2 separate regions of the Homo sapiens genome follow, and region 2 is linked to region 1. A link means that fine-mapping ties the variant in region 1 to the expression of a gene that starts in the linked region. Tissue or cell type: whole blood. Region 1 holds a variant in brackets; the other region holds the start of a gene. All regions are shown on one strand. Distances are from middle to middle.

What was found. PIP is the estimated chance that this variant, and not a neighbour inherited with it, causes the effect.
Region 2: KLRD1 starts here. The variant in region 1 is fine-mapped to the expression of KLRD1 in whole blood (TOPMed, PIP 0.99).

What each region holds. Positions count from the first base shown.
Region 1 is chr12:10,245,215-10,253,327 of GRCh38, forward strand. It overlaps a transcript of KLRD1 not described here. Among named protein-coding and RNA genes, the nearest start is that of GABARAPL1-AS1, 34 kb to the left of the region's middle. The variant T/C (reference allele first, on the strand shown) is at 4,575.
Region 2 is chr12:10,304,038-10,312,150 of GRCh38, forward strand. KLRD1 (killer cell lectin like receptor D1) reads left to right here and starts at 3,833. Exons shown (of 6, transcript NM_002262.5): 1 at 3,833-4,047; 2 at 5,351-5,443; 3 at 5,589-5,651; 4 at 7,427-7,578. The coding sequence starts at 4,041.

The DNA.
Region 1 (8,113 bases):
GGGCATGGTGACACCTGCTTGTAATCCCAGCTACTCAGGAGGCTGCAGCAGGAGAATCGCTTGAACCTGGTAAGTGGAGGTTGCAATGAGCCAAGATTGCGCCACTGCACTCCAGCCTGGGCGACAGAGCAAGACTCCATCTCAAAAACAAAAAATAAGTAAATAAATGAAATAAAACAAGAAAAGCTCAATTCCGCCTAGCTAGCAATTGGAACAACTAATAGTCTAAGAAAGGTTTATTCCATTTCAGAAAGATAAGCTTGCAGAAAGACAGTATGTGAATACATGAAAATCTGTTTTATTTTTAGCTCAATTTTCCAGTAATTTTTAACTCTCTGTTTGAATTTAACTATATAAATAAACCTGTACATACTATTGTATATTGATTATTTAATCATTAATTTCTGTACATGTACTTGTCTTTCTGTGTACTGTCTACTTGTCCTCATTGAGCCAACATATAGATAATGACGTATGATTAAATTAAACCTGCCAACTTCCATGACAGTCAAAGTACTTTTGGAAGTTTTGCCATGCTTTCAATGTGTACTTTATTTCCTATTATAGTTTCTCTCTTTTCATGTTTTATTTCCCTTAAGAAACATTTATTTTACTTTATTTTGGAGGAAAAGTCTTACCCTGTCACCCAGGTTGAAGTGCAGTGGCATGATCACAGCTTACTGTAACCTCGGGCTCCAGACTTAAGTGATCCTACTGCCTCAGCCTCCCAATGTGCTGGGATTACAGATGTGAGCTACCATGCCTGGCCAATTTACTTTAAAAAGAAGCATTTGTTTGTTTGTTTGTTTGAAATGTTATGATATTTTAACATACAATGCATTTCATCTCATGATAGCATTTTCATTGAGAGGGCAAATTTTATAATATCCCTAGGATTTATGTAAAGTTGAATTTATATTAAGTTGCCCTACTTAATTGTATATTGCTCCCTCCTTTCTTGGTTCTGTGTGTTTAGAAACCTCTGACTGGAAAGATATAAGTGCAAACTTGTCACTATAGTCTGAATGCAGAAATTGTGGGGATTTTTTTTTCATCCCATATACACACATTTTGTGTGTATTATATACTAGTGAACATAAAATTACATGGTATTAAAATTATGAATATATACTACATTTTTAAGGAACTCAGTCCAGTGGAAATACTAATAAACATCAGTGATAATGCAATGTAATAAATGATATAGATGAAGTGTGTATAACAGGTTCTTATACAGTTCAGAATTATCCTCTTGCTTCAACACAGTGACTGCTTCACAAGATAGGGTAGGAAACATGATTTGTGACCTGTCTGAGAAAACTCTTCCACATATCTACAAAATTTGAATTTACACTATGGTGTATAGTAATATATGTTGGCATACAATATTATTCTATGGATAAAATTAAAATGCATATTCTATTTTATTCTGTAATTATATACCATAAAACTATTGACCAAATGGAATATTGAAGAACATGTCATTTGTCAAATCATTCCTATAATGTGCAAATAATTTTTGTTTTTTAGGATGGTTGATGTGAGGTTTTTTAATTTGTTTTGGCTATGTTTAGATATTTCACATCTGTTAGTCTGAATTCAAATAATGAACCACATTGAAGTCTTCCTTCATAGTCCCATTAAATGGAGAGTCAGCAGATGTTTCTTAGTCTAAATGAGTAGGGAATTTCTTTTTTCTTTTTCTTTTCTTTTCTTTTCTTTTTTTTTTTTTTTTTGAGATAGAGTCTTGCTCTGTCACCCAGTCTGGAGTGCCGTGGCACGATCTCGGCTCACTGCAACCTCCGCCTCCTGGGTTCAAGTGATTCTCCTGCCTTAGCCTCTCGAGTAGCTTGGATTACAGATGTGCACTGCCACGCCTGGCTAATTTTTGTATTTTTAGTAGAGATGGGGTTTCACCATGTTGGCCAGACTGGTCTTGAACTCCTGACCTCAGGGGGGAATTTCTATTTATATCAATAATATTTTCCATGATGCTGAATTCTCCACATACTTCTACTGAGCTAAGCTCAACTGCATTTGTAATTTGTTTAACCTTTATCATACTGTCTGAATTTTTATATTTCTAATATCATCTAAGTCATGAGAACAATTTATTGGAATGTGATTTAGTTAGTTGGTTAACATTTATAATTTATTTTTTTCAAACATCTTATCCAAGTAGATGTGTTAAATTTTATATGCTTACACTTTTTGTGTAAGTAGATGTACTAATTTTTGTATAACATTTTTAGAAAATTTAATACCTTTCCATCTTAGGCTTGATGCAGTGTTTTGTGTGTTTTTTAAGACTTATTCATTTTTATAATAGAGTTTGCTTCACTTTCATATTTTATTTTCTTTAATCTAATTTAGTGAGTCTAAGATACATTGTGGTATAGTTTGGCTCTGTCCCAAACCAAATCTCATCTTGAATTGAAGTTCCCCTAATCCCCACATGTCATGGGAGGGACCAAGTGGGAAGGTAATTAAATCATGGGAGCAGTTGCACCCATGCTATTCTCATGATAGTGAGTGAGTTCTCATAACATCTGATGGTTTTATAAGGGGCTTTTCTCCCTTTACTTGGCATTTCTCTGTCCCGGCCACCCAGTGAAGAGGGACGTATTTGCTTCCCCTTCTGCCACGATTGAGACCTCTGCAGCCATGCAGAGCTGTGAGTCAATTAAACCTCTTTCCTTTACAAATTACCCAGTCTCGAGTATGTCCCTATAGCAGCATGAGTACGGACTAATACATATTGTTTTTTACATTTTAATGTCTCTGAAATTAGCATGCCTCTCAAAATATATGAAGTCTTACAGTCACTGCTGGCCAGGAGACAGTTGCAATGTGCACATGCGTGACCTTGATTTTCACTGGTGCTAGTGTCACTGCTTCAGTGAAGTTATGTACATTGTTGGTCCTGCATGTTTTACTCATCACATCATTTAGACACCGTCATAGGATGGAATGGAAATTCTCTGATCCTGTTTTTTTCCCCACAATTTTTCTAATCCTGTTTTAAAAAAAAATCTATGAGACTTTTACAGATCAAGAAATCACCATCAAAAAACTCTAAATAATGAGCATCAGAAGCTACAAAGAAAATCTTGGAGACATTAGAGGGGCACTCTTTTTAAAAAAATGGTACATGACTATTGTTCTTTATGGCACAGAAAACAATATTGTGTTGAAAACAATTATGGTAATGATAAGTATGTTTTGTCTGCTTTATTGACACTAATAAACTTCTTAATATTTTATTTTTATGTTTATTTTATTGTGTGAAATCAGTTTTATTTAAATGTATTTTCTTTTCCTTCCTTCCTTCCTTCCTTCCTTCCTTCCTTCCTTCCTTCCTTCCTTCCTTCCCTTCTTTTCTTCTTTTCTTTCTTTTTTTTTTTTCAGAGTCTCTCTCTGTTGCCCAGGCTGGAGTGCAATGGCGTGATCTCGGCTCACTGCAACCTCCGCCTCCTGGGTTCAAGTGATTCTCCTGCCTCAGCCTCCCAAGTAGCTGGGATTACAGGTGCCCGCCACCACACCCGGCTACTTTTTGTATTTTTAGTAGAGATGGGGTTTCACCATGTTGTCTAGGCTGGTCTTGAACTCCTGACCTCAGGTGATCCACCCACCTCGGCCTCCCAATGTGTTGGGATTACAGGCGTGAGCCACCATGCCTGGCCATAAGTATACTTTCCGCTTGATGATTGCACTTTTTGTTTTCTTTGAATCATATGCTTAGATAGAACATCATTACCATTCTGTTACAATGGAGATTTTAACATGTTCACACTTGAAAATATCAATTTTGAATTCCATTTGCATCTATAATTATATCAGGTTTAAACTCACATACAATAAACTATATACGACGGATAATGTGTCCTCTATTATTCTACCCATAAACAAAGTAAATGTATTTCCAAACATGGAGTCATTGGCATCAGCCAACCGGTGGGGGAGATTCTAAATTAGGCTTAACAGGGGACAGGGGAGTTGCTAACATCCCTTACAGTAAACTACTGAGGCAGTCCTTGATTCTGCCACATTATGAGGATTTTATACATAAGGTATTTCATGAAAGAAAGAGAAATAGTAAAACTGCACCAAAGGAGAAACAGTATTGAATTGCAAACAAAGAAGACAGAAGAAACAATAACAACAGTTAACAATGCTTTCTCATTCAATCCCTAGAAAAACCTTGTGATGAGGATACTTTTATCCCCTTCATTTTACAGATGTGGAAAAAGTAGATTAGGGAATTCAACTGGACCAAAGTTATAAATATAGTAAGTGACACAACTCAAACTAATATCTTGCCTTCTCTGGTATCAAACTTGTGCCCTTATCATATATCAAAATGCTTCCAAGAAAATTAAATATACGGTTTGCAACCAGTGGAGAAACTCTTGGGGAAATCGTCAATTTTTTAAAAAAGAATTTATTGAGAAGCATCCTTGAAACAACTTGAAAAAAGAGTAAGAAATTATTTCATACTTAATTTTCTACAAAGAACAAAATAATGAATCTCACATTTATCACACATATGCAGTGAGAAGGACTCCTGGAGGCTG[T/C]AGCAGTCAGTGCCTTTCACACAGGAAGGGACCCTTACTCTGAGCTCTGCTAAGCAGAAGGGTGGTAGTGTCCCATGGTGGCTCGTAATGCATTTCTTGACCCAATGACTTCCTTTGTGGTTTCATCAGAGTTCGCAGGAGCTGCCATCACTCTAGCTTTATGGTTTTCAACTCTAACAAAGTGAGGAGTATAGTAGTCCTTTTGTTTTCTCGAAGACCATTAGGATCACTTGTTGTACATACGTTGTCCGTCATGCTCAGATTTCCTAGGAATTCAACTTCTGTCCTGAGTCTCTGCCTTTATTTCTATCCTGGTGCGTTAGGCTGTCAACCTAGAAGGAAACATTTACATCCCCTCAACCACTCTCTCTCTTAAGTCCTTACCATTTCCCAAGGTGGTGATAACGTTTTGCTTTTTTTTTTTTTTTTTTTTTTTTTTAGGGGGGCTGTTATGAGTGCTGGAAACCAAGAAAGGATGAGCAAAGAAAAAAGTTCCCCTGAGTCATTTGGCCCCAAACATTTTAGCATACCCAAAGGCGCCAGAGCCCTTTCAGTAACATGTATTATTCCTGTTAAAGATCCTTCCCCTTGGTTTGGGTTCTGTAGCTAGACAAAGAGAAGGTTAAGAACATCTGCTTCTGTGTCACATTGTTCCAAACTTTTCTTTTCTTTTCTTTTCTTTTTTTGAGACGGGGTCTCACTCTGTTGCCCAGGCTGGAGTGCAGTGGCAAAATCTCCCGCTCACTGCAACCTCTGCCTCCTGGGTTCAACTGATTCTCCTACCTCAGCCTCCAGAGCAGCTGGGACTACAGGCTCCCGCCACCATGCCAGGCTAATTTTTGTATTTGTCCCAAAGTTTTCTGCTTGACCTAGATAAAACTTGGGTATTAATTTATCAGTTACCTTTTAAACACATTTTAAAATTTACATTTGCAACACCCCTTTGATTATTAACTTCCATTATATGTTGAGGCAAGTCAGTACGAAGTGGTTTCAAAGTCACATAATACTTTAAAAATGGATAGCGTATTAAGGTAATATAAAGGGTCTTGGGTCTGTGAAGCTAGAGAAGATCCAGACCAGGAGAAAGTCTCAGGTATTTAAGAGCATGTTTTCTGGTTAAGGAAAGGATAATTGAAAGCAGCCGCAAGTGCCATGTTTCGTTCATTTACCATCATTATCAACGACTTATTTAATGTAGTCATAATTTTGTAATCGGGATTTCTGAAGTTCCATAAACTGGAGCTAACATATGTTGCCTCACTAGCATTAACTACAGATGTTAACATACTAACCTTTCACTCTGGAGTTTGGGACAGTGAGTGATTATTTGTTATTATACTATTTTCTTTTTGAGATGGGGTCTCACTCTGTTGCCCAGGCTGGAGTGCAGTGGTGCGATCCTGGCTTACTGCAACCTCCGCCTCCCAGGTTCAAGCAATTCTCCTGCCTTGGCCTCCCGAGTAGCTGCGATTACAGGCAAGCACCACCAAGCCGGGCTAGTTTTTGTATTTTTAGTAGAGATAGGGCTTCACCATGTTGTCCAGGCTGGTCTCAAACTCCTGACCTCAGGTAATCCTCCGGTCTTAGCCTCCTAAAGTGCTGGGATTACAGGTATGAGCCACCATGCCCAGCCCTTTTATGCTATTTCTTTGGCAAACACAAAAAGGAATGGTCTGGTCCAGTGGTCCCCAAACTTTTTGGCCCCAGGGACCGGTTTCATGAAAGATAATTTTTCTATGGATGGGAGCAAGAGGGGGATGGTTTGGGATGGTTCAAGTGCGTTACATTTATTGTGCACTTTATTTCTATTATTATTACATTGTAATATATAATGAAATAATTCTACAACTCACCGTAATGTAGAATCAGTGGGAGCCCTGAGCTTATTTTTGTGCAACTAGATAGTCCCATCTGGGGGTGACGGGAGACAGTGACAGATCATCAGGTATTGGATTCTCATAAGAAGCACACAACCTAGATCCCTCGCATGTGCAGTTCACAACAGGGTTTGTGCTCCTATGAGAATCAAATGCCTCTGCGGACCTGACAGGAAGCAGAGCTCTGGTGGTAATGCCAGCAATGGGGAGTGGTTGTAAATATAGGTGAAGCTTTGCTCACTCATTCCCTGTTCACCTCCTGCTGTGCTCCAGGTTCCTAACAGGCCACAGTACCGGTCTGTGGCCTGGGGCTTGGGGACCTCTGGTCTGGTCAATTACACATTTCTCCTGAATTCTGGAGAGACAACATACCAGTTCCTCAGAGGAAACAAAGATTTTCTTAAAAATCACATCAAATTAAATTACTGCTTTTTGCTTATTGAAGTGGATAATCTTACTCTTGTTTTTGTCATTGAAAAGACACTAGGCCAGGTATGGTGGTTTACACCTATAATCCCAGCACTTTGGGAGGCTGATGTAGGTGAATCCCTTGAACTCAGGATTTTGAGACCAGCTTCAGCAACATATTTATGTTCTATAAATGTATGTTCTATAAATAATACAAAAATTAGCTGTGTGTGGTGATGTGCAGGTGTATTACGTATTTTCTATAAATAATACAAAACTTAGCTGGGCGTGGCGATGTGCACCTGTAGTCCCAGCTGCTTGGGAAGCTGAGGTGGAAGAATCACTCAAGCCTTGGAGGTTGAGGCTGCAGTGAGCTGTGATTGCGCTACTGTACTCCAGCCTGAGCAACAAAATGAGAACTTGTCTCCAAAAAACAAACAAACAAACAAACCCCACCACATTCTCAAGTTATAAGAAGTTAGTTCTTCTTCCCTCATGTTACTTAAGATTTGAATTCATGATTGTATAGAATCATTAGTTGTCTTAAACAAGCAAGGGCACTAAATGAATGACCATTACAGGGAAGACAGTAGATTCCATGAGAGGATGTGTCTTGAGAATGTATATGAACATGAAGACTTCATCTTTGAGAAAGAGGAATAACTTTCAGAGGAAGGTGATTCAAGTGAACCAAGACATGACACTGAAGAAGAATGGTGGGGGTGGTAGGGAGTAAAACTATCGCAGCTGTGTGTACACAAAAGGGAATGAACCAGGGTTGGGAGTGCAGTGGTGTGAGTTGTGACTTGGGCCTAGAATGCTTGATTGAACATAGCATTACTGGCTTTGCTGTCCTGAGTGAGTCAGTGGGCAGTTGTAAAAAAAAAAAAAAAAAAGATGAATAATTTAACTTTTAATAAACAAAGTTTGACAATCCTCTGCATAAAACATTTCTTATCTAATGCTTTTAATATTTTTTTATCACTAGTTTTGAAGAACTTAATTATAATGTACATGTAAGTAGATTTTCTTATGTTTCTTTTGCTTGGGGTTCGTGGACTTTCTAGATCTATATGCTTATAGTTCTAGCAATTTGGAAACATTTCAATTTCAGTATTTAAATCTCAGTTTTCAACTGTAAGTTCTTTGAATACTTTTTGCCCCCTCCTATGTATCCAGAGACTGCTTTTAGGCGTACGTTGGGCCCCTTGCAGCTGTCCCGCAGGTCACTGATACTCCGTTCATACACTT
Region 2 (8,113 bases), 59 kb after region 1:
GTTCTTCAAGAAGGTAACATAAAGGATTGGATTGTCAAATCAGTATCACAAGCATCCTCAGAGATTTCACCCAGTATCATGCTTTACTCATAATTTCAGTTATACAATAATTGTGAGATGCAGACAAAACAGTGGAAAACCCAGGCCTGCAAAAGCACCCACTCATTCTTACTTTCCCCTTAGGACACACTCTGGCCCAGACAAACAGATAAACATATGAGGTCTCTTAATGGTGTTTGTGGCTGCACCGTTTACACAAAAGGAGATGTTTTGGTTATGACACATCTCCATTTTATACTCAGATGGTTACATGGTTATGGTTACACATAGCTTATGTGACATTTTTCCAGGAAGCCAGCCTCCATAAACCCACAGATTCTAGTTTTATGCTTTTTTTTTATATAGTGTGTTTTGCTCTTGTCACCCAGGCTGGAGTGCAATGGTGCGATCTCAGCTCATCAAGTTCAAGAGACTCTAATGCCTCAGCCTCCCAAGTAGCAGGGGTTACAGGTGAGTGCCACCATGCCCGACTAATTTTGTATTTTTAGTAGAGACAGGGTTTCTCCATGTTGGCCAGGCTGGCCTTGAACTCCTGACCTCAGGTGATCCACCTGCCTTGGCCTCCAAAAGAGCTGAGATTACAGGCGTGAGCCACTATGCCCAGCCTTAGTTTTATTTTTTTATTTGATTTTACCACTAACAATTTTAGACAATCTAATACATCCTGCTAAAATCATTCCATTGATAAGGATTTTGCAAGCAAAACACACTATATATAAGAAACCACTATAGCTAGTAGGTTTGTTATTAGCATGTTTACAATGAGATTTTACCAGGTCAGTAACGTCTTTTGTTTTTTCTCAGGGAGCCCTCTCTCTCTGTTAAAAGAATAATTTGCAGCCTGATGTGAGCAATTTTCTTTCCGCTCAAAGAATGCATTTTCTAAAAGCAGTGAGATCAAAATAAATTTTTCCCTTGGGGATACTAGAACGTATACTGTTATTTTGTTCTGCAACATTTTAGTTATACATTTTTAGGTAGGGAAAAGACTTCACTGTTTATATGTTAAGTGAACATTAGTTTCTTTTCCCTGGCTTTTGACTAAGGTTTAAAAGTTGACTTAGCTATTGAAGTCATCACTTGCTCTTACCAAGGGCACTAGTAAATTGCAGGGGAGGAAGAGGGCATCTTCCTGCAATGGATACTAGGGGATGGAAAGTCCTGCAAAGAGAGACGTTCTTTTGGCAGGATACCTAACTTTTCAAAAGCAAATTTATGTAAGTGAAGCTGGATATTTCAGCGGAATTTAGTCTGGTTTCTCTCGGCAGCACACTCAGAGAATACTTTGAGTAGAAACTTTATTTGGAATTGTGTATGCAATAAATGTAGGAAAGGAAATGTAATAGGAAAGGGAAAGTGGAACGCAATAAAGGTTATTTTCTTAATCTAGCTTCTAGAGGAGGTGACTGGAACATAACACTATTGAGTAATTCTGGGAACTGGGCAAAACACAATGTTCAGAATTACCTGACTTTAGGGCTGAGACTGCTGGACTGTATAGCAAATCACAAGATTCGTTTGTTGACGCCCATTCTGGTGATGATTATTCAGCACTTCCGGATTAGCATGTCTGAGAACAGCAAGGCTTTCAGCAGTTATTGGAGAAAAAAAGAACCCATAGATACAGCTATACAGATAACTAGTTGGCCATAGTTCCCCAAATATTCCAAGGGACATAGGCGAGGCAATGATAACTTCAGGAACAAGTGGAGATGAGTGGGAGAGATACAGTACATGGAAATCATTCACCTGTCTACGTACAAAAATAAATAGAAAGAACAGAGGCCGGGCACGGTGGCTCACGCCTGTAATCCCAGCACTTTGGGAGGCCGAGGCGGGCGGATCACGAGGTCAGGAGATCGAGACAATCCTGGCTAACACGGTGAAACCCCGTCTCTACTAAAAAAAAAAAATACAAAAAATTAGCTGGGCGTGGTGGCGGGAGCCTGTAGCCCCAGCTACTCGGTAGGCCGAGGCAGGAGAATGGCGTGAACACGGGAGGCGGAGCTTGCAGTGAGCCGAGTGAGCCACTGCACTCCAGCCTGGGTGACAGAGACTCCATCTCAAAAAACAAACAAACAAAAACAAACAAAAAAAGAACAATCAGAGTTGGCAGCTCAGAAAGAGTTAAAGAGGTATATACATATATGTTTACTGTGTGTGTGTATGTGTGTGTGTGTGTGTGTGTTTAGGTATCTTAAATATTTAAGCCTGGAGTTCTTGAAGTAAACTTGTATTTGTTGGATTTTTATTTCTAAGTCAGTGAACTAAGATGAAAAAAAGGACAATGACTGATGGACGTATTCTCACCAAACAGGGTTCTAAAAACTTAGAACCTCTAACTTCCAAATAAAGGTGGTTGTGTTAGTAATGAAAGTGTAGTAATAATCCCTATTGCACATTCTGTCATAAATTTGTACTCTCTCAAGAGAAAAACTAAAAGCAAACCCCTAATCTCCTATATTTTGAGGCAATTTTACATGGGGGAAAAATAGTATCAGACAGGTTTCTTCCAGACCAGCTTTTTCTAACACTAAAAATGAATAGATTTCAAGTAAGCAAAGGATTTTTAAATAAATCACTTCAACTAAGATTTGCATACAGTCTGGATGAAGTAGATTTTACGCTTATATTCTTCAGTGAGGATTTATAGCTCAACAAATTTGTTGGTGCAATGAAAGCAGCTCTAGGCACACAATGCAAACTGAAAAGATGGAAAGTTTTGACTTCATAAAAACTGAGAAGTCAAAGTAGTCTTTTCTTTCATTTTTTTCTGTTGTTGGTTGAAAGCCCATCTTTTACAAAAGGGTTTATCTATAGTAATATTATAATGCTTGAACATAAACAATATACAAAATATAATACACAAAACGTTTATTTGAGTGTCTGCTTTTGTATGGGGGTGCATGGTAGATTGTATTTCCAGATACTAAATCATGGATCGAAATCTCTCCTTTCAAGATTCTTATTATAGCCAATCTCTTCCACATTGGAAATTTGACCTGTTCCACATTTGATATTCCTATTAACAAGGTTACTCTTCTGTAGATGAAAAAGTGTATATCGAAGTATCAGTATAGTATCTGAATTAGATAACACACTAAACAATATAATAATGTATTAGTAAAAATAAGGAAAATAAAGAAGCTGAAGTCGTGCTTAAAGAACTTTAAGAAAATGAAAATTGAGGTGTTGAAAAAAGCTTTTAAGGCTAACGTGAATGAGGCGTCCAAGTGGGAAACCCATCCAGTTCTACTTTTTTGAACTTTGCCTGTCGTGGCCAGGATAATTAGGTAGAGATCAGAAGAACAGAGTGAGACATGGAAATCCCAATTTATGTGACCTTGGGCAAATTACTTAGCTCTGTATGCCTCAGTTTTCTCTTTGATAGATTGAAGATATTTATATATCTTTACTATCAAGCCATTTACAGAAATAAATGAGCTAAGATATGCCAAGTGCTTTAAATTGTGTTAAGTACAAGGTAAATAATAAATGTTTATTATTAAAAGAGGAAAATTCTGTAAGTAATTTTGTTATGCTAAGTAAATTTACCTTTGGTTTGCCCATCATTTCCTTCATTTTCCAGATAACCCTTTAAAATGAATTTGATTTTCAAACAATAAAAAACAAAACAGCAACAAAACTCCCTCTGACCTCCTCTCACCTTCTTTAGTCCTTGCCAAAGTGTTAATATTGCAAAAGTACTGTGAGAATTTCCTGTATTGTGGTTCCTGGAACACTTCAGAGGCTTGTGATTCTACTGCTTCTTATTCACACTATAATACATGTCTCACCAATAGATGATTCAAGAACATCATTTAAATACACAATTTTTCATTCTCTATTTTTGCTAAATTTCTTCATACTCAACTTTCAGATTCTTTAATCTCCAGCTCAGCTTCAACAATTCAACGCTGTTCTTTCTGAAAAAGTACACATCGTGCCTTCTCTACTTCGCTCTTGGAACATAATTTCTCATGGCAGGTATGTGTGATTTCAGTCACTAAATTAAAAATAACCAGAAAAGCTATTTCTTGGATTGGCTGATTTTGGGGTAATGCTTTAAGAGAAAAGGACATGATTAACAGTGGATGTTTTTAGGATTTTCATGCATTAGCACTTTCCACATTCATTATATTTTCCTGATTCTTCATTGTATAACTTAGACATGATTTCATGAAGTTTTTTCCACAGGTTTGAAGAGTGGTTTCTGACAGGGCTACCTTTAAATTCTGAGTGAGAACTGAACTTTAGCCTGGTTAAATTGTGAGCAACAGTGTTCTAGTATAGCAATAGAAAATGCCAAATATTAATGACACAATGCTGAAAAGGTTTTAATTGACTATTTATGTTGTGACATCCAAAAATTACACAAATGAACAGTTTGACACATTGTACTGTTGTTAATGACATCACTCTTTGAGAGTGTGTTCACGTTAGCACAGAATCTCCTAATGTTGAAATGTTTTAGGTGAAAGGCCTAAAAGCAAGTAATTTTGAGTATGAACAAATGGAATGTTCTAGGGGAAAAAGGATTGTTTATGTATGTTCAATATACTGTGAAATGAAGCCAGGCCTCAAAGTTGTTACCCATCAATTTGTTATCAGTTATCACACCAAGTCCAGAATGTTCCTATGTCTTCTTTTCCCTATAATATCTCTACGAACCAATGAGCAGCTAGACATTTATCAGAGCAAAACCTGCACTGAGATGAGGAGAGGGCATACTCTCAACTAGTATTATTGTGACAATGGTAGACTACGTTGAATGAAAGATTCTTGAGCTAGACACACTTTCATGTGATTTCTGACTTGGATACTTACTTGCTTTGATACCTTGAGAAAATAACATTATTATTGGACCTTATGTTTTCTCATCTATGTAATGAGAACCATACTATCTATCTTGTGATTTTGTTGAGAGAATAAAAATAAATGCCTGTTATGTAAGTCCATAAAACACAACGTGGTGCTTGTTAATATCTTCTACCTCCAGATCTTTAAGCACCTCTGCCAATTTAAAATAAATGGTAAATTCACTTTACTGCAACAGAGCTGGTAGAGAAGAAAATGTTTGAATAATCTTCCTGAAGAATAAGATACATCACATAAAAATGTTGGTATTGGGTGAAGTCCCGATTGGAAAGTCTTCAGTGTTTTATTGGCAAGATGACTCCGTTATCAAATGAAAGAATGTTGTGGATTCTCCGTCACTAGTTTCTGCTTTTAAGAACTCAGCTCCTGAGTTTGCTCTTTAAGTCATTACTCTGTCTGTCTTTCTCTACAGTGTTTAAGACCACTCTGTGGAGGTTAATTTCTGGGACCTTAGGGATAATATGCCTTTCGTTGATGTCTACGTTGGGAATTTTGTTGAAAAATTGTAAGTTTTTCTAAGCAAGTCTCCATAAAAATCAAAACTGTGAAGACATCATTTAATAATAAAGGCTTCATCTTGCTAATGTGTAATATTTTAGTATTTCATAAACCCATACCTAATTAAACAAATTTCTAATCATTTCTTATAGCTTTTACTAAACTGAGTATTGAGCCAGCATTTACTCCAGGACCCAACATAGAACTCCAGAAAGGTAGGTCACATTTTTTGGAAAACTTAGCATTGGTAAAAGATTAAATAGGCAGTTTCTTGTTTTTCACACAGAGAGGCATGATGGAATATTATACTTAGTAATAGAAATTTGCCTACCAGTGTAGGATAGTCTCATTTTACATTGCTCAATCTAATGTAAAAATGATTAAATTACACTGAATGTGTATCATTTGTACATTTAACTAATCAGGAAAATAGTAGCCTGAAACGAAAGATATGTTTCCTATATGAGTGCTCATAATTAAGTAACAAAAAATAAACCACAGGAAATGTTACAGTTAATCCTCATTACCTGCCTGAATTTGCTTATAACCTATACTTTTGCATCTCACTACTTTTCCTTTTCCAGAATATACTGCACAGATTTCTAAACCTTACTTATCCAGTGAAAGCCAGCTCAAAGTCCAATTTTCGTTTTTGGAGATGGAGTTTTGCTCTTGTCGTCCAGGCTGGAGTGCAGTGGCACGATCTTGGCTCACTGCCACATCAGCCTCCCTGGTTCAAGTGATTCTCCCACCTTCCTGCCTCAGCCTCCCAAGTAGCTGGGACTACAGGCGCCCGCCACCATGCCCAGCTAATTTTTGTGTTATTAGTAGAGTCAGGGTTTCGCCATGTTGGCCAGGCTGGTCTCGAACTCCTGACCTCAGGTCATCCACCTGCCTCGGCTTCCAAAGTGTTGGGATTATGCCGTACCCAGCAGAGCCACTGCGCCCGGCCTCAATTTTCTAAATATGTATTTTTCGGAATGCGCCCCAAGTTGTCTCACCATCATCTTGATTATATAGTGTTTATTTACAGTGCAACATCTTGGCCAGGCACAGTGGCTCACGTCTGTAATCCCAGCTCTTTGGGAGGCTGAGGTAGGCATATTACTTGAGGTCAGAAGTTCAAGACAGGCCAACCCCGTCTGTACTAAAAATACAAAAATTAGCCAGGCATGGCGGCACGCACCTGTAGTATCAGTTACTCAGGAGGCTGAGGCATGAGAATCACTTGAACCTGGGAGGCGGAGGTTGAAGGGAGCTGAGATGGTGCCACTGCACTCCAGCCTGGGCAACACAGCAAGACTCTGTCTCAAAAACAATTAAAAAATATAAAAATAATAGTGCAACATCTTCAGCACTACTTATATGGCAAAGATTTGAGTGCCTATGACGTGTCATGTTTTTATTACCGTGGGTAACAAACGTTGAAGACACTATTATTGATAAACTGTATAATTAAGCCTCAAGATAATTGGTTTATTTATATTCCCTTTTCAAAAATAAGATATCCAAACATATATCAAAATTCTCCAAATGTACCATATTCTTTTCTGACTCAGAAAGTATGCTAAAATGTTTTCCTCCTTTAAATCTTTTTCATCTAGTTAACTCCTATTTATGCTACAGTACTTAGTTTTGAGTCACTTCCTCAAAAAAAGGTTCTTGTAACTGCCCCTCATCTTACACTCTGCTACATGCTGTTTTAACATACTTAATTTTTTTGTACTTATCTAAATCATCACTAAATATCGTTAATAAATTATTGAAAATTATATAATTGTAATTCTATCTCTAGAATATAATCTCCATGAGGAAAAAGCATCATGTTCATGTCTAATTAGTTCACATTAGTAGCCCCTGAAGTGTGGTGTATACAGTAGATTCTGAATGTTAAAAGAATACACAGCAAATAATTTTTGAATAATTAAATAGCATTGAAAAAAATGTCTAGTCTCCAGTGTCATTAGTCATGCTTTATGTTTTCTGTCAGACTCTGACTGCTGTTCTTGCCAAGAAAAATGGGTTGGGTACCGGTGCAACTGTTACTTCATTTCCAGTGAACAGAAAACTTGGAACGAAAGTCGGCATCTCTGTGCTTCTCAGAAATCCAGCCTGCTTCAGCTTCAAAACACAGATGAACTGGCATGTGCTGAGTCTGATTTTCTACATTTTCTTTGATCTAGAAAAATATACTATCTAAACAAGTTAAATACTTTGGTTTAAGTCATTAATCACATAGTAAGTGGATGGTTATATTGGAATTGAGTTATCTGTTCTGTGTACCTTAAAGTAGTCATTGTAAAATCTTTATTAAATTCCTTAATGATTATATCATGGGAATACAAATCAAGATAGGTGCCAAATAAAGTGAAAGAAACTTTTCAGGAAGAATTCAAAGAAGATAATAGGTCATTATATTTACCCATTTTATTTGAAGAACCAACTAAATGACTGTGATTCTTAACTCTTTTAATTGAATTTATAATATCTTTTATAATTTTATAGTTTTTGTCATCTTTCTGGGATATAAGCTAGTATGGAAATATGGTAAGAAAACGTACCCAATTCTTTTCTTTTCTTTTTTTTTTTTTTTTTTTGAGACAGAGTTTTACTCTGTTGCCCAGGCTGGAGTGCACTGGTGCAATTTCAGCTCACTGCAGCCTCCACCTCCTGGGTT